Regions from separate parts of the Homo sapiens genome. Here regions 2 and 3 are each linked to region 1. The links come from fine-mapping of genetic effects on gene expression. A gene starts in region 1. Each other region holds a variant in brackets. All regions are shown on one strand. Distances are between the middles of the regions.

Region 1 (8,180 bases):
CTTACTTAAATGGACTGAGTACCATTCATGTAACCTAAAATTCAGTAACACTTCAAATATTTTCTCAAGTCAATAAGTATTATATCATGAATATAGTCTTGAATTTATGAATCGTAATTAATCATTTTTCACTTGGTGACTAGGTTATGCCTAATATATTTTTTTAAATTATTAACATTCTTTTTTTTTTTTTTTTTTTTTTTGAGACAAGGTCTCACTCTATTGCCTGAGCTGGAATGCAGTAGCACAGTCATGGCTCACTGCAGCCTTGACCTCCCGCGCTTAGGTGATCCTCCCACAGCCTCCTGAGTAGCTGGGACTACAGGCGCAAGCCACCACATCTGGCTAATTTTTGCATTTTTTTGTAGAGATGGGGTTTTGCCATGGTGCCCGGGCTGGTCTTAAACTCCTGGGCTCAAGTGATCTGCCTGCCTCAGCCTCCTAAAGTGCTGGGATTGCAGGTGTGAGCCACCACGCCCGTCCTGAATGAAAATGCATCTTGTCCTGCTTAAGGCAGATTTCTAGATGTAACTAACATTGCTGGGTCAAATGGCATGCAAATTTTATATTTTGATCCACATTGCCAACTGCTCTTCCAGAAAGGTTCTACTTACATATACTCAAAATGGGTAAGATTTTCAGGCAGAAAGGAGGCATGAGTGTTGGGAAAGGATGTTCTAATTGGAGGAAAAAATTGTTCACAAAAGCATGGAGTTGGAGAAATAACATGTTTTGGAAAGAGGCTAACCTCAGACCAGTAGAGCAGAACTGTAGGGAATGATGCTGTGAAAAGGTAAATTGGAACAAGATTGTGGAGGCTGCAAATTTCGGCCTATTCCGTAGGCAATGGGAAACAACTGAAACTTGTTGAGAAGGTTTGACGTGATTTGTGAAACTAACTGTAGTAGTGGGTTCAAGGTAAGCAGGAGGGACACGGACTGACCAGGCCTAGCAGGCAGCCCTGCAAGGGAACAGATGTGAAATGACCGGAGCCAGATTACAAGGTCGGATTAGGGGAGGGGAGGGAGGAGTTTACATCTCTGCTGTCACCTGGAGTCTTAAAACCCTGGTAAGGCCACACTCCCAGAGCCTATCAGGCTGCTTCTCTAATGTGGTGCTTGATTTTAGAAGCAGGGGCTTGTGTTTTGCTTTGTCTTTTGATTGTAGTAAAATATATAGAACATAAAAAGTTTAACCTTTTTTTTTTTTTTGAGACGGAGTCTCAATCTGTCGCCCAGTCTGGAGTGCAATGGCGCGATCTTGGCTCACTGCAACCTCCGCCTCCCGGGTTCAAGCGACTCTCCTGCCTCAGCCTCCCGAGTAGCTGGGATTACAGGTGTGCACCACCACACCCGATTAATTTTTGTATTTTTAGTAGAGGCAGGGTTTCACCATGTTGGCCAGGATGGTCTCAAGCTCCTGACCGCAAGTGATCCGCCCGCCTCAGCCTCCCAAAGTGCTGGGATTACAGGCGTGAGCCACCAAGCCCTGCCTAACCATTTGTAAGTGTACAGTTCTGTGGCATTATGTACAGTCACAGTGTTGTGCAACCATCACCACCATCCTCTCCAGAACTCTCTTTCACCATCCCAGACGGAAACTTTCCCACTAAACAATAATAACCCATTCCTCCCTCCCCTCAGACCCTGGTAACAACAGTTTTTTCTGTCTCTATGAATCTGACAATTTTAGGGATCTCATATAAGTGGAATGGTCATACAGTATTCATCCTTATGTGTCTGGCGTATTTCACTTAGCATAAAGCCTTCAAGGTTCATCCAGGCACTGTGATTTGAAGAGCTGTGTTATTTCTTGCCAGCTCTGACACTGCAGAATGTCATATGGGAAGTGCAGTCCACTTGCCAGCATGACTCTTCCCAATCAGCTCCCTTCTAGGGAAGAAAAATAGTGGAAGTGCTTGCCTGTTATCTTTGCAGGGGGTGAGACAGGGTGTGGAGGGGAGGGGAGGGGAAGGGGTCTCTCCCAGGGAGAGTGGGCAAGTGACTTTCCCTGGCTGGAACATATGGACACATCACCACAATTAGTGTGTTTTCCAACAGTTGACCTTTTCAACAACCTGAAAAAGTATTGGGACTATCTAGACGCTTAAGCTTAGGGTGCCTATCAAACCTTCTGAGGATTGCTGAAACTAGAAAAAGGAGTTGAGAATTCAGTCCAACCCTCTGCTTTTTAGGAGGCCAGGAGAGGTGTGACTGAGAACATGGAGTTGATTGGTTACAAAGTCGTTACACTGTCCTGTGCTTTTTCTGTTGTTGTTTTTTCCCCCAGCTTTCCACACCTACTAGGGTGTTAGGCATATGGTGAAACTGGTGGGAGGTGAGGTAGGCAGACAACAGAACAGTGAAGAATGGCTGGTTTCAAGTGCCAAGTGCAGAGAAGGCAGGGTGAGTGGGTGGGAGGTGGAGAGCGCTGGGGATACTGTTTCTTGGTCATGTCTCAGATCACACAAAGAATCAAATAAGATTTTAGTTTCTCTATCAATACAGAGCTCTCTCTTAGGTCTCCATTTTGCATCCAGCAAAAGCAGCAGAACCCCCAGTTCACTATGGGGCCAGGGTGATTTAATAGAAAAACCCTCCCTTTTGAACAGCTCCTGCCCCTCAGTCCCAAGGTGCTTTCTTTGCTGGAGCAGAAGGTCTTGGAAATTTTAGGGAGCTACAATTGTGTTAGCCATTTTGTACCCAGAGCTGAATATCTGATCAAACATTTTACTGCAACCTGCTGGAGAAGAGGCCACGGATACCATCAGCTGTTCTCAGAAATGCACACTCCAGGGAGGAGTTGCTCAGCGCTGTTTTCTCTACATAGAAGATTGCAGGAAATGCCTCTCAGCTCCTACGTTTCTCCTACACAGATTCTCTAAAGCAGCTTCTGGGGTGTGGTCACTGCTTTTCTCTCCACTCCAATGGAGTGAGTGGGTAGGGAAATTTTTCCTCAGTATCATGGCTACAGCCAGGACAGCTTAGAAACCGTATTGCAGGTCCCAGGCACGGGGAAAGAAGCCAAACTGCAGAGGGCCAGGAAGCTCAGGGCCAGGTCTGGGCCCAGATTCTGGTGCAGTGTCCAATGACTTTATATTTATTTAAAGAGGAGAGCTGCTTGGTAACCAGGAGGCTGAAGCCTTCCTAAGCTGCAGAGCTCCCCGTCTGCCTGACTGCACAGGAATGATCTGGGTGTTACTCCCAGTGGCTGCGGCCCAGCTGTCACCGGAATGGGGATAGGGAAAGGGCTTCCTAATCCAGGGCTTCTGGCTACAGAGTTTAGAGCCAGGACCTTAAACTGCTAGGACTTTAAGTATCAGAAATTCTGAGAATCTTATTTTTCTCTTTCTGCACCCCAGCAGCCACCCGCATCAAAATGCCTCCCTTTCCTATTTGAAGGCAATACACATACGGTTGCAAAGGGAAGGTTCTGACTGCTGAGATGTAAATCCTAGCTCTTCCAATTGGTAGCTGCCTGACCTGGGCCAAGAGACTTAGCCTACATGAGCATTATGTAAGAGTGCCCATTTGTAAAATGGGAAAACATCTCATAAAATTATTGCAAAGATTAAGAAATGAAAAGGTAACACGAAATACTTAGCATAGTGCCTAGTACACAAGGCAAGTTCGATTAATTGTGCCAGAAAGAACCTTAATGTCTTGTTTATGAAATAGGATGAATGTAGCCTATTCCACTGGCGACCTGTGAGAAAGCTTTTGTTGCAGGAATGTAAGAAATTATTATTTTGCCGCTGCCGTTTCCTCCCCCATAATCTCCAAGAACATAAGAAATTAACTCTCCAAATCCCAGAATGACAGCTTTATGCCCCAAATTAGTCGACTTAATTTTTTTTCTGATTCGGATTTGGCCTTTTCCTCTCACCACCTCCTCAAACCCGGGGCCCCAAATCATCCGCGTCTTCTTGACCCCAGCCCCCACCGAATTAGGCTGACTTGGGACCCCAGCGCCAGCCTCCTCCTCGGGAAAGTGAGCAGGAAGAGACGCACTCGGGTGATCTCACCCTTTGGGACTGGGCGTTTTTCCGGCCGGGGCGCGCAGCATCCCCAGCCAGACTGCAGCGATACCCCCGCCCCGCCCTTCTCCGCAGTCCTGGAAGAGCTCCCAGGGCGGAGTGGTGCGATGCAGACGACTGTCCGCAGGGCGGGCGGTGGCGGGGCGCAAGCTGCGGGGAGGGAGGTGAGGCGGGAGCGTCTCTACCGCCAGGGCGTAGGCAGTGACCTCACTGCACCATCACCCCTCACCCCTTGCGCGCGCCCCATTTCCCCATCCTCCCGCGGCCCGCCCCTCGCTCACCTCTTCCCCCGCATTGTCGCTTCGGCTCCTTCCGGGATCGCTCGGCCCTTTCCGCCGGGCGGTCGGGCGGCGAGCCGGCGGGAGCACCGCCCCCTTTGCTCCGCCGGCGCGCTCCCCCACCCCTCGCGCAGCGCCGGGGCGCTTCCCCCGGCGCTCGCGCCCGCCCGCCGCGGGAGCGCGCGTAGCCGCTTATAAAAGAGGCGGGGCGCGCGCGTCGCCGCCACTACCCGCTGCGGAGTGAACGGTGTGGAGCGGAGGCCGCGGAGGCTCCTCGGTCCTTCAGCACCCCTCGGCCCGACGCACCCACGCCCCTCACCCCCCGAGAGCCGGTGAGAGGGGCAGCCGGGGAGCTCCGGGAGGGAGCGGGGCCCCGGGCAGCCGACCCCCGGGTGGGAGCTGGGCAGCTCTTCAGGCGGGGCGGGGCCGGCGCGCGGACAGGTGAGCCGGGCGGGCCGCGGGGCTGCCTCCATTCGGCTGAGTGGGGGAAGCCGCTGCCGCTGCTTTTGTGGCGCGTGGGCTGCGGAGGAGCAGCCGGGCCGAGGCTCGGCGCCGCCGCTGGAATGTCACTGACGGGGGGAGGGGGCGCGAGGCCGCCGGGTCCCTCCCAACCACCCCCAAGCCTGGCTGCGGCGCGGCCCTGCCCTGCCCCATCCGGCTGCGGCAGGTGGGTGGGGGCTCCCTCGTCGGGATCTTCGCCAGCCGCCTCCCTGCAGAACGCTCCCCGCACCGCCCCCGGTCCCTTCCCTCGGCCGGGAGCGACTTCTGCAGCTCGTTCTTCCGAATCGCACCAGCAATGCCGGCCAGCCGTAGAGGGAGGAAGAGCCCGGGGAGCCCGAGCATAGCGTAAACGGCTCTCTGACCTTAATTTCATCCTGCATGGCGAATCTCTGCCGTCTCTCTGAACGCAGAAGGGTCTGAGACTGGCCGTCTCCTTTTCTTTCCTTGTAATAAACATTTTTCTTTCTTCCTAGTTGTGATTTGCTTGTAAATAATAGGTAAATGCAGTGCTTGCATGGTATGTGGCTCAAATCAAATAACTTAATAGCTTAGCGTTCTTGTTTGTGTGTGTGTTTCCTGGGACTGGGTCTTTCGAGTCGAGATACAGTGTCAAAAATTCTACCATACCACTGTTGAATGATAGAACAGTCTTTTGTTTGAAAGCTGTCCCTGAGAATTTGATTAGACGCTTCCCCTAGAACATCGCTTTCAAAAGTCTCTGATGTACTAGAGTAAAATATATTTTAAATAAGCGCCTTGTTAAAAGTTGAATATGTTTTAAATGAAAAGCCTAAATAGCTCAGAAAGCTGGGTTGAGATGATGCTTGAACTGTTCCAACATCTAATCAGATCTCTTTTATATAATAGATCCTAAAATATTTAAGCCCTTTGTTCTGTCTTCATCATGTTATTTTAGAAAAACTTACCATCATGGCTGTTCGGGAAGAACAGGAGAGAGGCCATATGAAGTATTTTCATAATGTGTTGAGAAATTGCGTCGTCATAGCAATTGGCCTTAAGTAAAACAGAATGTATCAAAGATGGAAGGGTGGGGGTGTCTTGGAGCCAGGAAACAGAAAATCTTGGAAATAGCAGGAGGAACACTCAGCTATATGAAGCCATTGAGTCAAGGTTCCGACTCCTTAACTAGTCGTTTATTTTCCCTTTCATTGCAGCTAACTAATGTCTTAGATTTTGAAAGGTCAAATTGAATGTGCTGCGGAGGAAAAAAAAAGTGCTGCAGTAAAGGCCTCTGTGCAGGAAATTAACAATAAGCCTTTTTTAGTAACTGGGCCAATAATTACTCAAAGGGACCCTCAAAGTGTGTTAACTGTTATCCAGGGACCTTGATGGAGAGACTGGAAAGGAGGATTTTTGCTTCATCCTGGACAAGTGTGAAGCAGTTCTTATGGCAAACCATCAGCCTAGTAACTGATTCTCTGATATGCTTTGGTCTTGGCAGTGTGTTTTGTAGTCATCTAATAATTGGAGAAATCTGGTATGTCACAGGCTGCAGTGTAAGCCTGTCAAGCAATATGATGAAGAGGTGCACATGGGGAGAGCTGTTTTAAGTATGTCTTTTGGTTCCCTGGGTTAGAATTTTTTCTGCTTTTTCTTACCTGCCTTCATCCAAAGTTGGGGGTCAACTGCAGATCCTGAAAAGTGGATCTCAGGAATAGTCCCCCATGTCCTGTCACTGCTGAATCTACACTAAGAATGGACAAGTGTGTTCAAGGCTGGCCTGCCTTTGTAATCAGTCCTCCGTGGGCTATGCAGGGATCCCACTAGTTACGCACTCATCTGTTGCAGCATATCAGCTGCGGCTGTACTGTAGAAGAATGCAACGCCCTAGTGGCAAATGCTGACTCCAGGAATGCGGAGGAGGAGGAGGACTGCATAGCTCATCACTGGGGGCCACTTGACTGGAGCAGCTGTGCTGCAAACCATCACCTCTCTTCCACCTTTTTTGCATATTCCTCTTGTACCAATTTTGAACAGGAAATAGTATTTTGTAAAGTAAGTGTACTGGCAAACTAGGCCCAAGTCAGATCTTTGTGGCTTGAGTTCTACTTTGTGGCAATTTCATGAAGTCATGCTCTTTTATTGCTGAATGGAAGGGGATTTAGGAATCATCTTGTCCTGGGATCCTCAGGAGGAAGGCATGTTTAGTTTGAAAAAGTATATTCGGTATTATTACTTTAACAAGTGGGGAAATTGAGGCCCCAAGGAGAATGAGACTTGACCAGGGCAGCATATCTAGAAAGTAACTGCCAAGACCTGGGAACCTTGGTTCTCCTTCCACATTTTAAATCCCTTGTGGGATTTAGACGCTATACAGAATGTCAGAGAGAAGACACTGAAAAAATATCTGAAATTGGATTTTTAATCTGTATTCATATTTTTTAAATAATCTGTTTTCTTCATGATTTTGTTCCGTTTGCCCTTAGAAGCTTGTTATCTTGCTCTTCCCCCTCCCTCTTTAGACTCCACATTCCTCCATCATGTTGTCATCGTTTCGTAAACGCAGAGTCCAGGTATTTGACGAGCATGCAGAAAACGGGTTGCCTTTTTGGTTTTGCCTGGCTTGCAGTGAAGGCATATTCGTGTCAAAGAGGTTGAATGATCCAAAGAAAGGGGGAAAAAAACCCTGCCTGCATGACGTTTCTGTTAAACAAATTGGTTAGGATTTGTTTGGGGTTTTTTGGTGTTAAATTATCAGAAGTATTAGTAAATTTACTTGAAAATTTGCAAAGCCTTTTTTTTTTTTTTTTTTTTTTTAACCTCCCTCTCTTTCTCTTTAAGGCATGAATATATTAATTTCTTACCACCATTCTGGTGTTTGCATGTAGTGTTTGCTGACTTTTTATTGGTGGCTACTTGGTTTTTAAGAACCAAGGGACTAAACATATTATCCTAGATATTTGGAGAAAATAATCTGAAAATACATAGTAAAAATTGTGTTTTTAAAATTTGACAAATATTGTAAACTTGGGTTTGTTTCCTGTTGCATTGACTTCTTCCACCACAATTTCTATAATAGAGCTTACCTTTTCATGTTTAAAAAATAGCTCTCGGGCTGGGTGCGGTGGCTCATGCCTGTAATCCCAGCGCTTTGGGAGGCTAAGGTGGGTGGATCACTTGGTCAGGAGTTCAAGACCAGCCTGGCCAACATAGTGAAACCCCATCTCTACTAAAAATACAAAAAATTAGCCGGGTGTTGTGGTGGGCCCCTGTAATCCCAGCTACTTGGGAAGCTGAGGCAGGAGAATCGCTTTAACCGAGGAGTTGGAGGTTGCAATGAGCCGAGATTGCACCATTGCACTCCAGCCCAGGTGACAGTGCGAGACTCTGTCTCAAAAAAAAAA
Region 2 (8,180 bases), 100 kb before region 1:
CTCACCCAACACTTTCTGTGTCTGACGCCTGTCCATGTTCAGCCCCCAATGCCACCACAATATCCTGCTCCCTATAGTGACAGGACATCAAGCCAGCTCTGCTGTGTCCCGCTACAGTCTGGATGTATGTCTCCCAGCCAGTTCGCCTGGGTCCCTGGATTTGCTGGTAGTCTACTTGCTGCTATGAATCCCAAGTTACTACAAGGGCCGGTTGGGCAGATGCTTCCCCCAGCACCAGGCTTCTGTGCCTTCTTTAGTGCTCCACCCCTGCTGCACCACCTCCACAGCAGCACCCTCCTGGCCCAGGACTTCACCTGCAAAACCTAAGATCTCAGGCCCCAATGTTTATACCAGACGCAACTCACTTTCATCCACAGCACTGTCGACTCTTGCATCAGAGACAGCAACAGAATAGAAATCAGCATCAGAGTCTCAATGGTGCAGGAGATAGAGGAAGTCAATGGAACAGTCATCAAGATCATCTCTGAAAGGATCCATATGCCAATCTCATGTTGCAGTGGGAAAAGGATTGGGTCCCTAAATTCCAGATGATGCAACTGCAAAGCACTGATCCCTGGATTATTTTTATTACCAGAATTACTTGGAAAAACAGTCAGCTGCTGAAGAAATATAAGGTGATGGCCCGAAAAAGGAGCGCACCAAGCTCATCACCCCTCAGGTGGCTAAACTGGAGCGCGCCTATAATCCAGTGCAATTTGCGGGCTCTTTGGGAAAGCTGACTGTTTCTAGTGTAAATAATCAGCAAAAAATGATTGATGCTGTTGTGACATCTTGGAGTGAGGATGATGAAACAAAAGTTTGAGACAAGAGGAGAAAAACCCTTGTCATGGCCGAGCGCAGTGGCTCAAATCTGTAATCTCAGCACTTTGGGAGGCCAAGGCAGGCAGATCATGAGGTCAAGAGATTGAGACCATCCTGGCTAACACGGTGAAACCCCGTCTCTACTAAAAATACAAAAATTAGCCGGACGTGGTGGCGGGTGCCTGTAGTCTCAGCTAGTTAGGAGGCTGAGGCAGGAGAACCGCTTGAACCTGGGAGGTGGAGGTTGCAGTGAGCTGAGATCATGCCACTGCACTCCAGGCCTGGCGACAGAGGGAGACTCCATCTCAAACAAACAAACAAACAAAACCCTTATCATAATTGAGAAAACCTACAGATTACTCCTTGATGTGGAGGACTATGAAATAAGTTATTGCCTAAAGCTAGAATGGATGACGGAAAGCACAAAATTTGTAGCATGTATGACAACTTAAGGGGGAAATTGCCTGGACAAGAGAGGCCTAGTGATGACCACTTTGTACAGATCATGTATATCCAAAAAGAGAAGAGAATGGTTGCCTGTATTCTTCCTCTGCTCTCCACAGAGCAAGCAGCTGACATTCTCCTGATAACAGCCAGGAACCTCCCTTTCTTTATCAAGAAGGATGCACAAGGGCCAGGCGCCCTGGCTCACTCTTGAAATGCCAGCACTTTGGGAGGCCAAGGCGGGCAGATCACTTGAGGTCAGAAGTTCAAGACCAGCCTGGCCAACATGGTGAAACCCCATCTCCACTAAAAATACAAAAATTAGCCAGACATGGTGGCACGCACATGTAATCCCAGCTACTTGGGAGGCTGAGACAGGAGAATCACTTGAACCTGGGAGGTGGAGGTTGCAGTGAGTTGAGATTGCGCCAATGCACTCCAGCCTGGGTGACAGAGCGAGACTCCATCTCAAACTAACTAAATAAATAAGTTAAAAATAGCCGAGTGTGGTGGTGTGCACCTGCAGTCCCAGCTACTTGGGAGGCTGAGGTGGGAGGATCATTTTAACCCAGGAGTTCAAGGCTGCAATGGGCTATGATCACAGCACTGCACTCCAGCCTAGGTGACAGAACGAGACACTGTAGCTAAATAAATACATGTGAAATGTGAGCTTGCTTCTATGAAAATAACTTTTTATGGCAGGTTTCATGTTTGAAACAGCTACACACAATTTCTGATAACTTTTTATCAGGAGAAATAGGCTTTGTAATGGTAGTCTCTTAAGAAATTCTTGATGGCTACTAATAGTGAGAACCTTTATTCACAGCTGCAGGTGATATAAAATTTGGACCTTTTTAGGCCAGGCGTGGTGGCTCATGCCTATAATCCCAGCACCTTGGGAGGCCAAGGTGGGCGGATCACCTGAGGTCGGGAGTTCGAGACCAGTCTGACCAACATGGAGAAACCCTGTCTCTACTAAAAATACAAAATTAGCTGAGCGTGGTGGCGCATGCCTGTAATACCAGCCACTTGGGAGGCTGAGGCAGGAGAATCGCTTGAACCTGGGAGGTGGTGGTTGCGGTGAGCTGAGATCGCACGCGCCATTGCACTCCAGCCTAGGCAACAAGAGCGAAACTCTGTCTCAAAAAGAAAAAAAAATTGGACTTTTTTTTTTTTCTTTTTGAGACAGTAACATTCTATCGCCCAGGCAGGAGTGCAGTGGCTTGATCACAGCTCACTGTAGCTTCCACCTCCCCAGTCTCAGGTGATCTTCCCACCTCAGCCTCCCAAGTAGCTGGGACCACAGGCACACACTGTGACGGCTGGGTTTTTTATTTTATTTTTTTGTAGAGACGAAGTCTCATTATGCTGCCTAGACTGGTCTTGAACTCCTGGGCTCAAGTGATCTGCCCTCCTTGGCTCTCAAAGTGCTAAGATTATAGGTGTGTGCCACCACATCCAGCCTGAAATGATTTTTTAATCTCTTTCCTTTCCTTTTTTTTTCTTTTTTGAGACAGAATCTCTCTCTGTCACCCAGGCTGGAGTGCAGTGGTGCCATCTAGGCTTACTGCAACTTCTGCCTCCTGGATTCAAGAGATTCTCCTGCCTCAGCCTCCTGAGTAGCTGGGATTACAGGCATGTGCCACCATGCTCAGCTAATTTTTGTATTTTTTTTAGTAGAGATGGAGGTTTCACCATGTTGGCCAGGCTGGTCTTGAACTCCTGAACTCAAGTGATCTGCCCTCCTTGACCTCCCAAAGTGCTGGGATTACAGGCCTGAGCCACTGTGCCCAGCCTCTTTTCTTTCTTAAGCTGTGTCCTGGCTATGTTAGTGTTTATTTTATTATAATCCTTAAACTAAACTTATACATTCTGTTATGGGTTGAATTGCATCCTCCCTGAATTCATGTGTTGAAGTTCTTACCCCCAGTACCTCAGAATGTGACCTTATTTTGTTTTGTTTTGTTTTTTTGAGACAAAGTCTAGCTCTATTGCCCAGGCTGGAGTGCAGTGGCACGATCTCAGCTCACTGCAACCTCCACCTCCTGGTTCAAGCAATTCTCCTGCCTCAGCCTCCTCGAGTAGCTGGGACTACAGGTTCATGCCACCATGCCTGGCTAATTTTTGTATTTTTAGTAGAGACGGGGTTTCGCCATATTGGCCAGGCTGGTCTTGAACTCCTGACCTCATGATCTGCCCGCCTCCACCTCCCAAAGTGCTGGGATTACAGGCATGAGCCACTGCACCCAGCTGCTCATTTGGATATAGGGTCATCGTAAATGTAATCCGTTAAGATGGGGCCCTGCTGAAGTAGAGTGGGTCCCTAATCCAGTATATCTGATGTCCTTACAAAAAGGGGAAATTTGGACACAAGCACACACACAGAACACCAGATGGAGGTTGGAGTTATGCTGCCAAGGAACCACCAGAAGTTAGAACAAGGTTGGGAATACATCCTTCCCTGGAACCTTCAGAAG[G/A]AGCACAGCCCTGCAGACACCTTGATCTTGAACTCCAGCCTCCAGAACTGCCAGACAATACATTTCCTTTTTTTTTTTTTTTCTTTCTGAGAGAGAGTCTTGCTCTGTCACCCAGGCTGGAGTACAGTGATGCCATTTCAGCTCATTGTAACCTCCGCCTCCCAGGTTCTAGCAATTCGCCTATCTACCTTGGGTGAAAAAGCCAGACCCTGTCTCAAACAAAACAAAACAAAACAAAAATCTCTTAGAATTGAGAGACTTTCAGTTTTCTACATGCAGGGATAGTTTGTCTAGCAGAGGGCATATTCGTTGCTTGTAAGACTGGCAAAATCCCTCCTGTTGTTTATAACACAGTAAACACTGGGTGAGTTTATGCATTCTCAGAAACTGTTGGTTGGGGCTCCAACACAGAAAGACAGCTGTACCTGTGCCATGTTAAATCAGAGAAAAAGGTTGTTGAATAGTAAGTGTAATATGAGTTGATTTAAGTGAAAAATATTTTCATTTGCCTTGAAAAGTCTGTAAGGTACACATTAAAAGGTCAACAGCAGTAAATAGGCCAGCGCAGTGGCTCATGTCTGTAATCCTAGCACTTTGGGAGACTGAAGCAGGAGGATCACATGAGCTCAGGAGTTCGTGACCAGCCTGGGCAACATAGCAAGACCCCATCTCTAATTAATAAATAATAATAACAATAAAACAGCAGTTAACATATATTAAAAAAAAAAAAAAAAAAAGAAACTGTTGGTTGGATATAAACTGGCCTAACCCTTTTGACAAGATTTCCTGTCTTTTTTTTTGTTTGAAACAGAGTGTCACTCTTTTGCCTAGGCTAGAGTGCAGTGGTGATCTTGGATCACTGCAACCTCTACCTCCTGCATTCAAGCAATTCTCATGCTTCAGCCTCCCCAGTAGCTGAGATCACAGGTGTGTGCCACCACACCCAGCTAATTTTTGTATTTCTAGGAGAGACAGAGTTTCACCATGTTGGCCAGGCTGGTCTGAAACTTCTGGCCTCAAGTGATCCTCCCACCTAGGCCTCCCAAAGTATTAGGATTACAGGCGTGAGTCACCATGCCTGGCTCCTACAGTTTATGTTTTAGCATACATAGGATCATATGGTATGTCTTGGGGATCTTCTCCTATTATTACTTATGGATGTACCTAATGCGTTTAAACTGGTATACAGATAACATAGATGTACTATGTTAATTGATTCCTCTGTTGATGCATATTTAGGTTGCTCCCAAATTTTTAACATTACTTTTAGACCCAAAAGTCTAAAAGTTTTAGAAGTTTTTTTTTTTTTTTTTTTTTTTGAGATGAGGTCTCACTCTGTTACCCAGGCTGGAGCACAGTGGCACGATCACTACTCACTGCAGCCTCAACCTCCCCAGGCTCAGGTGATCCTTCTAACTCAGCCTCCCAAATAGCTGGGACTACAGGTTAGTGTCACCACGTCTAGCTAAGTTTTGTATTTTTTTTTTTTTGAGACAGAGTCTTGCTCTGTTGCCCAGGCTGAAGTGCAGTGGCGCAATCTCGGCTTGCTGCAAGCTCTGCCTCCCAGGTTCATACCATTCTCTTGCCTCAGCCTCCCGAGTAGCTGGGACTACAGGTGCCCACCACCACAACCAGCTAATTTTTTTGTATTTTTAGTAGAGACGGTGTTTCACCGTGTTAGCCAGGATGGTCTCGATCTCCTGACTTCGTGATCTGCCCGCCTCAGCCTCCCAAAGTGCTGAGATTACAGGCGTGAGCCACCGGACCCAGCTTTAAGTTTTGTATTTTTTGTAGAGACACAATGTTGCCCAGGCTGGTCTTGAACTCCTGGGCTCAAGCCCAGCTCAGTCTCCCAAAGTGCTAGGATTACAGGCATGAGCCACACTGTGCCTGGCTCCCCAAAAGAAGTCTTTAAAGTTTATTTGATCCTTGATTGGACTTCTAAAGTGAAACTCTCAGAGCATCTATTTTGTGCTGGATTCTGTGGGACATGAAGAAGTGGCCCTTGCCTTAAGAGAGCACCCAGTAGGAGGTGGCACAAGATTTCCGTACACACACGAGTGCTTACAGCAGGGATATTGGGACCCATACCCAGGAGGGAGCCATCAGTGCATCCTGAGAAGTGGGAGCCACCGCAGGCCTCATGGAGGAGGGAGCATCTGAACTTGGCCTGGAGGGTTCCCACAGTTGCAGGGGCTGGAGATCCTGGCCCAGGCCCAGCCCCTGCGCTCCTGAAGTGGACACTCTAGAGACGAGTGGAGGATGAACACTGTTTCTGGTTTGGGTGGTTTGTGTGTTTGGGGCAAGGGAATTTCTCAGGTTGCCCTTATTTTCTGAAATGCACATACTCCTGGATGTTTCTGTGTAAACCATCAGCTCCATTTTGGCCAGAGCAGGAGTTCCTCTCAACTCTCCATGGGGACTGGGGAGGTGGAGGATGCAGAGATCAGACAGACTTATAGCCTCTGAGCTTCGGGGTGGCCTGTGGGTCTGGAGAATACTTCTGTGGTTCTCCAAATGTGATCCTTGGCCAGTAGCACCAGCATCACCTGGACATTTATTAGAAATGCAAATTTTTGGCCAAGCGCAGTGGCTCACTCTTATAATCCCTGGGCTTTGGGAGGCCGAGGCGGGTGGATCATCTGAGGTCAGGAGTTCGAAACCAGCCTGGCCAATACGATGAAACCTTGTCTCTTCTAAAAATACAAAAAATTAGCCAGGCGTTGTGGCAGGCGCCTGTAATCCCAGCTATTCAGGAGGCTGAGGCAGGAGAATCGATTGAACCCAGAGGTGCGGAGGTTGCAGTGAGCCGAGATCAATGCCACTGCCCTCCAGCCTGGGCAACAAGCGTGAAACTCTGTCTCAAAAACAACAACAACAACAAAGAAATGCAAATTATCCGGCCCCATCTCAAACCTATCGAATCAGGAACTTTTAGAGAATTGGTTCCTGTAATCTGTGTTTTAACAAGCCTGTGACTCTGGTTTGAGAACCACTGATAGCGATATTTACTCCAGGTGACCCAAGGAAGCGGGGCCCAGCCTGGGCTCCCCCGACCCCTGTCCACCATCCCCGACTGCTCCGTGCTCACCTCTAAGAGGGTGAAGCTGTTCCTGACTGATGGCTCGCAGGAGGATTGGGAGCTGGGATGCTGCTTGGCTAACGTCCTCTCCTGCAGGGAGGGGGTGAGGTCTACAAGGGGTACCCAGGGCATTCTCTGGAATGCTACCTCCCTTCCCGTGAATACTACCTCCCTCCCACTTAATGTACTAGGTGGCATTATTAATAGTATTATTAATCCATACATTCATTCAACATTTTTTTTGTTGATTGTCTACCGTTTACAGGTTGGTTTGGCTACTGGAGATACAGAAATGACTGTGATGTCACCCTAGTCCACAAGGAATCCATGGTCGAGTGGGGACACTGGGGTGGCCAGCAGGCAGTGACAGAGCAATCTCATACAAGTTTATATTACAACCAGGTGCAGTGGCTTGTCCTTGTAATCCCAGCTACTTGGGAGACTGATGCACCTCCTCGGGAGGTGGGAGAATCACTTGAGACCAGGAGTTAGAGACCAGCCTGGGAAACATAGTGAGACGGTCTCAAAAAAAAAAAAAAAAAATTAGTCGGGCTTGGTGACCCGCACCAGCAGTCTTAGCTACTCAAGAGGCTGAGGAGGGAGGATCGTTGGAGCTCAGGAGCTTGAGGTTGCAGTGAGCTGTAATCATGCCACTGCACTCTAGCCTGGGTATATTACATATAATATGTATGTATAAAAATGTGTATATTTATTTATGTTTATTTATTTATGTTTATTTTTTGAGATAGAGTCTCACTATTTCACCCAGGCTTGAGTACAGTGGCACAATCACGGCTCACTGCAGTCTTGAACTCCCAGGCTCAAGTGACCCTCCCACCTCAGCCTCCTAAGTAGCTGGAACTACAGGCATGTGCCACCATGCCCGGCTAACTTTTAAAAATGTTTTGTAGAGATGGTGTCCCCTATGTCGCCCAGGCTGGTTTGAAACTCCAGGTTTCAAGCAATCCTCCCACCTCAGCCTCCAAAAGTGCTGAGATTACAGGCATGAGCCACCATGCCCGGTGATTTTTTTTTTTTTTTTTTTTTTTGAGATGGAGTCTCACTGTGTCGTCCAGACTGGAGTGCAGTGGCGGGATCCCTGCTCACTGCAACCTCTGCCTTCCGGGTTAGCGCAGTTCTCCTGTCTCAGCCTCCCGAGTAGCTGGGATTACAGGTGCCCGCCACCATGCCTGGCTAATTTTTTTGTATTTTTAGTAGAGATGGGGTTTCGCCCATTGGCCAGGCTGGTCTGGAACTCCTGACCTCAAGTCATCTGCCTGCCTCGGCCTCCCAAAGTGCTGGGATTACAGACGTGAGACACCGTGCCCAGCCCCCCGCCTTTTTTTTTTTTAAGA
Region 3 (8,180 bases), 40 kb after region 1:
TCACCACCATGCCCAGCTAAATTTTTTTTTTTTTTTTGAGATGGAGTCTTGCTAGAGTGCAGTGGCACTATCTTGGCTCACTGCAACCTCTGCCTCCCAGGTTGAAGCAATTACCCTGCCTCAGCCTCCTGAGTAGCTGGGATTACTGGCGCCCGCCACCACGCCCAGCTAATTTTTGTATTTTTAGTAGAGATGGGGTTTCACTATGTTGGCCGGGCTGGTCTTGAATTCCTGACCTCATGATCTGCCCGCCTTGGCCTCCCAAAGTGCTGGGATTATAGGTATGAGCACTGTGCCCGGCCCTACTTTAAAATGAGATTTTTTTTTTTTTTTTTTGAGATGGAGTTTCACTCTTGTTGCCCAGGTTGAAGTGCATTGGCCTGATCTTGGCTCACCGCAACCTCCGCCTCCCAGGTTCAAGTGATTCTCCTGACTCATCCTCCCGAGTAGCTGGGATTACAGGCACGCACCACCACGCCTGTCTAGTTTTGTATTTTTAGTAGAGATGGGGTTTCTCCATGTTGGTCAGGCTGGTCTCGAACCCCCGACCTCAGGTGATCTGCCTGCCTCAGCCTCCCAAAGTGCTGAGATTACACGTATGAGCCACCGTGCCCAGACAAAATGAGATTTTTTTTTTAAAGATACCAAAAATTTAAAGTTCTTGGATCAGATTTTATTGGTAGCTTCAGTGAAGAATTCTCATGAGTGTATATTTGGTACATTTGGTACAGCTGGTGGCATTTGAATCTGCTCTGTACTTAGATGACTCAGCGCGGACGTGTTTTTACCATGTTTGCCCTTCCTTTGGATTTTTAGCAACAAGTGGCCCCCACGGATGATGAGACTGGGAAGGAGCTGGTCTTGGCTCTCTACGACTATCAGGAGAAGAGTCCCCGAGAGGTCACCATGAAGAAGGGAGATATCCTTACCTTACTCAACAGCACCAACAAGGCAAGGCACAGAGAGTGGCTGTGTGTTTGTTCCACGCTGGCACCTCCACGTATGCTCAGTTGGGTTTCTGTGGGTTGCATGTCTCCCTGAAATGAGAAGGCTTAGAATTCAAAGACATGAGTTTCCTCACCAATCCCCCACGTGACATACATTTATGCAGTACTGTGTATGACCAAGAAGTTAATCTGTCTTCTTGAATACCTGCAAGAAGCATAGATAATCACACTCAGAAGGATAGCTTATTTTCACCATTGAGTGTCTCTAGGTGGAATTTTTGTCCTGTCAAGCCAAAGTTTGCTTTCTGTATAACTTGGACCTGTTGGTTCTTTTTTTTTCTTTTTCTTTTCTTTTTTTTTTTTTTTTGAGACAGAGTCTCGCTCTGTCACCCAGGCTAGAGTGCAGTGGCACGATTTCAGCTCACTGCAAGCTCCGCCTCCTGCGTTCACCCCATTCTCCTGCCTCAGCCTCCCGAGTAGCTGGGACTACAGGCGCCCACCACTGCACCTGGCTAATTTTTTGTATTTTTAGTAGAGATGGGGTTTCACCGTGGTCTCTATCTCCTGACCTCGTGATCCACCCACCTCAGCCTCCCAAAGTGCTGGGATTACAGGCATGAGCCGCCGTGCCCGGCCTTTTTTTTTTTTTTTTTTGAGACAATGTCTTGCTCTGTCGTCCAGGTTGCAGTGCAGTGGCATGATCTCAGCTCACTACAAGCTCCACCTCCCAGGTTCACGCCATTCTCCTGCCTCAGCCTCCCGAGCAGCTGGGACTACAGGTGCCTGCCACCACGCCCGGCTAATTTTTTGTATTTTTAGTAGAGACGGGGTTTCACCGTGTTAGCCAGGATGGTCTCGATCTCCTGACCTCGTGATCCACCCGCCTCAGCCTCCCAAAGTGCTGAGATTACAGGCATGAGCCACCGCGCCTGGCCGACCTGTTGGTTCTTACTCCAGACTACAAGCTACATCTCAGCCCAGCAGATCATTGAAGACAGCTGTGACCTCACCCCACAGGCTTTGTCTTCTTTAGGCTAAATAATGACAATAATAAATCCATCCTGGTCCACCAGCCTTTCTTCCCTAACACACTCTGAATTGACAGTGGTGTTGAAGCATGCACAGATTGACTGATCCTGAAAGAGGCCTGCCTTCTGTTTTAGTTAAGGCTGGAGAAATGTCCTTGGCCATTTTTAAGAGCAAGTTTATTCCCATTCCCACACCTTATTTATCCTTGTCATGATAATTTGAGGAAACCTGTGATTCTTATCTTTCTATTGAGTCTAATTTAAACCTAAACCAACTTGTGGTCTAACTTTGGTTTATTCAAGAGCAGCATTGCCCAGTAGAACTTTCTGTGATGGTGGAAATGTAAGTGTCTGTGCTGCTTCTGCAGTAACTACTAGCTACGTGTGATAGTAAGCCCTTAAAATATGGCTAGTACAACTGGGTGTTTTATTTAATTAAATTATAACTCGATGAAGCCGGGCATGGTGGCTCACGCCTGTAGTCCCAGCACTTTGGGAGGCCGAGACAGGAGGATCGCTTGAGCCCAGGAGTTCGAGACCAACCTGGGGCACATAGCGAGACCTCATCTCTATTTATATTAAAAAAGAAAAAAAAAAAAAAGGGCCAGGCGTGGTGGTTCACGCCTATAATATCAGCGCTTTGGGAGGCTGAGGTGGGTGGATCATGTGGTCAGGAGATTGAGACCATCCTGGCCAACATGGTGAAACCCCGTCTCTACTAAAATACAAAAAAATTAGCTGTGCGTGGTGGCGTGCACCTGTAGTCCCAGCTACTTGGGAGGCTGAGGCAGGGGAATCACTTAAACCCAGGAGGCAGAGGTTGCAATGAGCCAAGATCGTGCCACTGCACTCCAGCCTGGCAACAGAGCAAGACTCTGTCTCCAATAAAAAAGAGTTCTAACTCAATGAAAGTTAAGTGGGCACATGTGACTGGTGGCTACAGTGTTAGCACAGCTCTGGAGCATCTAAGCAGAGAGAAGGCCAGCCTTGGTGGCAGGCGGCATTGCTCTTCTGCCTGTGACCCTCTGCAGGTATGGCAGGTGAGGAAGGGACTGAATTATCAGACCTTATAGAAAGTGATTTTAATATCATTTTGGACCTTTTTTTTTTATGAGACAGAGTCTCGCTCTGACGCCCAGGCTGGAGTGCAGTGGCGCAATCTCAGCTCACTGCAAGCTCTGCCTCCTGGGTTCATGCCATTCTCCTGCATCAGCCTCCCGAGTAGCTGGGGCTACAGGTGCCCACCACCATGTCCAGCTAATTTTTTTTGTATCTTTTTTAGTAGAGACGGGGTTTCACTGTGTTGGCCAGGATGGTCTCCATCTCCTGACCTCGTAATCCACCCGCCTCGGTCTCCCAAAGTGCTGGGATTATAGGTGTGAGCCACTGTGGCCGGCCGTTTTGGACCTCTTAAAACAACGCTCTCGTGTGTGTGTATACACGTGACCTCCTTGGATTCTCCCTCTCAGAGAAGGAATTTACTTTCAGTTCTCCCTCTTTTTTCCTTAGGATTGGTGGAAAGTGGAAGTGAACGATCGTCAGGGTTTTGTGCCGGCTGCGTACGTGAAGAAATTGGACCCCGCCCAGTCAGCCTCCCGGGAGAATCTCCTGGAGGAGCAAGGCAGCATAGCACTGCGGCAGGAGCAGATTGACAATCAGTAAGGATGACACTGGGGGCCGCAAGGGCTAGGCGTCCCATAGGCATACTCTGTTCCACATGGGCCGAAGCTTAGGCGTGTCCT[G/A]AGGCTCCTGGAGCCCACCTGCACGCCTCCTGCTGTCTCCACCCCACTTTGAGCCCACAGACCTCCCTGTGTGGGTCTCAGACCCCTGACTGATGACTTATATTGCTTTGTTTTTTTTCCACCAGTGTTCATGAGTTTTTCCTAACCAGAATTTTTCTAATCATTGCCATTTGCCTTTTGGTTCGAGATGCTTTTTGAAATTGGATTTTCAGATACTCTACGCCCCTACAGCTCTGTCCACTTTGAAAAGCTGCTTTCAGAGCTTCTCTGTCTGCCATAGCTTTGAGTTCTGAGAATGGAATTTTGTAATGAAATGGCTCTGTCCTCTTTCCTCTAGCTGAGCCCCCATATTGCCCTGTGTCCCTCCTTTAGGGTATTTCTGACTCCACTAGTGGAATCAGCAGTTTTGGACACTTGGGAAATATCCAGGAAATACATTCCCACTAGAGTTTGGGTAGAATAGTGAAATTTTTGGGCTCCAGTGATCCTCAGTAAGATCAGAGTTATTTGTCCACTTTATAGATTCTGTTACTATAGAGATAAGAATGGGAGGTTTTGGTTTGTGTTCTTTTTTTTTTTTTTTGAGACAGATTCTCGCTCTGTCATCCAGACTGGAGTGCAGTGGTGTGATCTTGGCTTACTGCAACCTCTGCCTCCTGGGTTCAAGTGATTCTCCTGCCTCAGCCTCCCAAGTAGCTGGGACTGCTGGCACATGCCACCATGCCCAGCTAATTTTTGTATTTTTAGTAGAGATGGGGTTTCACTGTGTTGGCCAGGCTGGTCTCAAACTCCTGACCTCGTGATCCGCCCGCCTTGGCCTCCCAGAGTGCTGGGATTACAGGCGTGAGCCACCACGCCTGGCCTTGGTTTGTATTCTTACCAGTAGTCTGGGTCATAAATATAAGAGGAAAAAGATCAAATACGTGGCTAAATTGCCTGTTAGCACTCAGTAAAATTTCTTTCTAAGGGTAGTCCAGTCTGTTCCCTGACCTTGCTCTGTGAAGTTACCAGTGTTTTCAGCACAGGAAAATCTGCCTTAAGCATGGCAGACCCGCCAGGAAAATGAAGGTGAACTAACCCTCTAATTTTCCTGCTATTTCTTTACTGTCATGTCACTCATGACTTAGACTGCTCCTTAGACCTGTTGAATAACTCCATAGTTTCCCAACATTAAGCATCCACCATCATGGCACCAGTCGGAGCTGCTGCCTTTCATCCCTGTGGATTAACCCCACTAATTCGTGCATGCTTTTGCTGTGCCCCCTCTGTGCAGGACACGCATAACTAAGGAGGCCGGCAGTGTATCTCTGCGTATGAAGCAGGTGGAAGAACTGTGAGTAGGCTGAGAGTCTTGCAGAGCACCAATGTCCACTGCTACCCTATCCATTCTCCCTCTGCCGCTTCTCTTGAAGGCCTTTGTCCATCCAGAAAGATGAGGTGGTGGGAGGAACTGCCTGTCCGTGCAGCAGCTTTGGCTCACAAGGGAAGAGGTCGCGGTGCAGCTGTGTCGGTCGATGACTGCTTATCTCATTGGTTGCTTCCATGTGCAGCTGTGTGTTCAGAGTGGTGTTGGTTCTCCCTCCTGTTGGTTTTTGTGGTGGACCAGCCACTATCAGCAGCAAACCTGAAGGCCTGTTCTATAGTTTTCCTTAGTAGGAAGGAAATCATATGCTTCTCTTAAAGTGCTCTGATTCTTGGTAACTCATTGCTTTTTTATTTTACTTTGGGACACTTAGATTTGATGATGATTCTAGTTTTTTTTAATTTTTAGTTTTTTATTGTTTGTTGTTTTCGTGTTCAAAGATAATATTTCAGCCTTTTGTATTTTAGTTCCCGAGGGTTAGAATATTCTTTGATTCTTAAGAAATCTTTCAAGTAACAGAATGGCACAGATACTCAGTACTGTGCCTGATTTTCCTTCTGAACTTGCCAAAACTTTCTGAGAGCTGAATGTATCATTTTAGAAATGTCCTACTAATATGGAGATAAAACATCCTATATGAGGATATTTTAAAGCTCAGTGTACCCTCCCCCACCTCACCCCAGCCTGGGGGCTCTTCAGAGAATTATAAAAGACAGAAAAACCCTCTGTATACATTCTGCCCAGCAAGTTCATCTCGTCTCTCCACTGTAGTTGCATGAGCCCTGTGTTACTGTGCTAAGCGCTTGGTTTCAGTCCCTTGTGGTTGTGTTGTTCTAAGTGCAGAATCGGCCTGGGGATAAGTGTGCCTGGCTGTTCTAGCCACCTGGTTGTGAACAGTACAGTGTGCGCATATCTCTCAGGCTGTGGCGTGGGTACTTGGGATCCTCGTCTTCATCTGATAACTCTGTTACTAGGGCATCATCATTACAAACTCGTAGCCTGGAATCCACATCTTGGAGACACCTCGTGGTTTGCCTTTATGTTAGCATCTACAGCTAACTGCCTTCCTTGTCCCTCTTGTCACCCTCTTGAATTCCATCAGATATCATTCTCTGCTGGAACTGGGTGAGAAGCGTAAAGGCATGTTGGAGAAGAGTTGCAAGAAGTTTATGTTGTTCCGTGAAGCGAATGAACTACAGCAATGGATCAATGAGAAGGAAGCCGCTCTGACAAGTGAGGAGGTCGGAGCAGACTTGGAGCAGGTTGAGGTGCTCCAGAAGAAGTTTGATGACTTCCAGAAGGTATGGGCAGTCTTCAGGCTCAGCTGAAAATTTGTTTAAAGATTTGAGTCTCTTGATTTTTTTTTTTTTTTTTTTTTGAGATGGATTCTCACTGTCATCCAAGCTGGAGTGCAGTGGTATGACTTCGGCTCACTGCAACCTCTGCCTCCTGGGTTCAAGTGGTTCTCCTGCCTCAGCATCCTGAGTTGCTGGGATTACAGATGTGCGTCACCACGCCCTGCTAATTTTTGTATTTTTTGGTAGAGACAGGTTTTCACCATGTTGGCCAGACTGGTCTCAAACTCCTGACCTCAGGTGATCCACCCGCCTCAGGCTCCCAAAGTACTGGGATTATAGGCATGAGCTTCTGCGCCTGGCCAGAGTCTCTTGATTTCTGACTGCAAATTACTGGAATGCAAATTACATAGATTATATTCCATCATGTATGTAGCTTTTTTTTTTTTTTTTTTTCAATTTTTTTTTTTTTCCTTTTGAGACAGAGTCTCTCTTTTGTCGCCCAGGCTGGAGTGCAATGGTGCGATCTCGGCTCACTGCAACTCCTCCTCCCAGGTTCAAGCAGTTCTGTCTCAGCCTCCCGAGTAGCTCACCACCACGCCTGGCTAGTTTTTGTATTTTTAGTAGAGATGAGGTTTCACCATATTGGTCAGGCTGGTCTCAAACTGCTGACCTCAGGTGATCCGCCTGCCTCAGCCTCCCAAAGTACTGGGATAACAGGCGTAAGCCACCGTGCCCGGCCTCAGTTTTTTTTTTGTTCAAGACAGAGTCTCACTCTATCACCCAGGCTAGAGTACAGTGGCTCGATCTCAGCTCACTGCAACTTCTGCCTCCCAGGCTCAAGTGATTCTCATGCCTCAGCCACCCGAGTAGCTGGGATTACAGGTACGCACGACCACATCTGGCAAATTTTTGTATTTTTAGTACAACCGGGATTTTGCCATGTTGGCCAGCCTGGTCTTGAACTCCTGGCCTCAAGTGATCTGCCCACCTCAGCTTCCCAAGGTGCTGGGATTACAGGCATGAGCTACCATGCCTGGCCTGTGTAGCTATTTTTAAAAGACTTTAATTGAAACCTTTTTGGACAAATTTAGTTTTAAGGAAAGATATGCTATGTTCTCTACATGTTGTTATAAGAACTTTTCTAAGCCTAAACTACAATAGATGTGAAAGTACTCTTTTTTTTTTAATTGGGGTAAATTCACAAAGCTAGCCATTTTAAACTGTACAATTCAGTGGTATTTAGTACATTCACAGTGTTGTGCAACCACCACCTCTAGTTCCGAAACATTTGTGTCACTTCAGAAGAAAACCACATATCCGTCAAGCATTCATTTGCCATTCTCCCTAACCCCAGTGGCCCACGCAGCCACTCATCTGCTGCTTGCCTCCAGATTTACCTATTCTGGACATTTATATAAATGGAATCACGTTATGTCACTTTTTGTGACTGGCTTCTTTTGTTTAGGTTTTCTTTCTTTTATTTATTTATTTTTTGAGACAAGGTGTTCTGTTGCCCAGGCTGGAGTGCAGTGGCCCAGTCTCGGCTTACTGCAGCCTCCGCTTCCTGGGCTCAAGTGATCCTCCTGCCTCAGCCTCCTGAGTAGCTGGGATTATAGGTATGCACCACTATGCTCAGCTAATTTTTGTATTTTTTGTAGAGACAAGGTTTTGCCATGTTGCCCAGTCTGGTCTCAAACTCCTGAGCTCAGGCCGTCTGCCCAGCTTGCCCTCCCAAAGTGCTGGGATTACAGGTGTGAGCCACCGCACCCGGCCCATAATGTTTTCCAGGTTCATCCTTTTTG

What was found. PIP is the estimated chance that this variant, and not a neighbour inherited with it, causes the effect. A credible set is the group of variants that fine-mapping cannot tell apart.
Region 2: its variant is the best candidate, but not a certain one, in a credible set for the expression of SPTAN1 in whole blood (INTERVAL, PIP 0.50).
Region 3: its variant is the best candidate, but not a certain one, in a credible set for the expression of SPTAN1 in whole blood (TOPMed, PIP 0.55).

Annotation. Positions count from the first base shown.
Region 1 is chr9:128,548,051-128,556,230 of GRCh38, forward strand. SPTAN1 (spectrin alpha, non-erythrocytic 1) reads left to right here and starts at 4,537. Exons shown (of 57, transcript NM_001130438.3): 1 at 4,537-4,646. LOC101929270 (a long non-coding RNA gene) reads right to left here and starts at 4,363. Exons shown (of 4, transcript NR_188457.1): 1 at 4,318-4,363. RefSeq lists silencers at 4,181-4,950, 6,500-6,794 and an enhancer at 6,986-7,485.
Region 2 is chr9:128,445,179-128,453,358 of GRCh38, forward strand. It overlaps the pseudogene LOC100129352. Among named protein-coding and RNA genes, the nearest start is that of ODF2, 6.7 kb to the right of the region's middle. The variant G/A (reference allele first, on the strand shown) is at 3,744.
Region 3 is chr9:128,587,993-128,596,172 of GRCh38, forward strand. It overlaps SPTAN1 (spectrin alpha, non-erythrocytic 1), which reads left to right. Exons shown (of 57, transcript NM_001130438.3): 21 at 817-951; 22 at 3,485-3,633; 23 at 4,991-5,050; 24 at 6,183-6,381. Among named protein-coding and RNA genes, the nearest start is that of SPTAN1, 39 kb to the left of the region's middle. The variant G/A (reference allele first, on the strand shown) is at 3,718.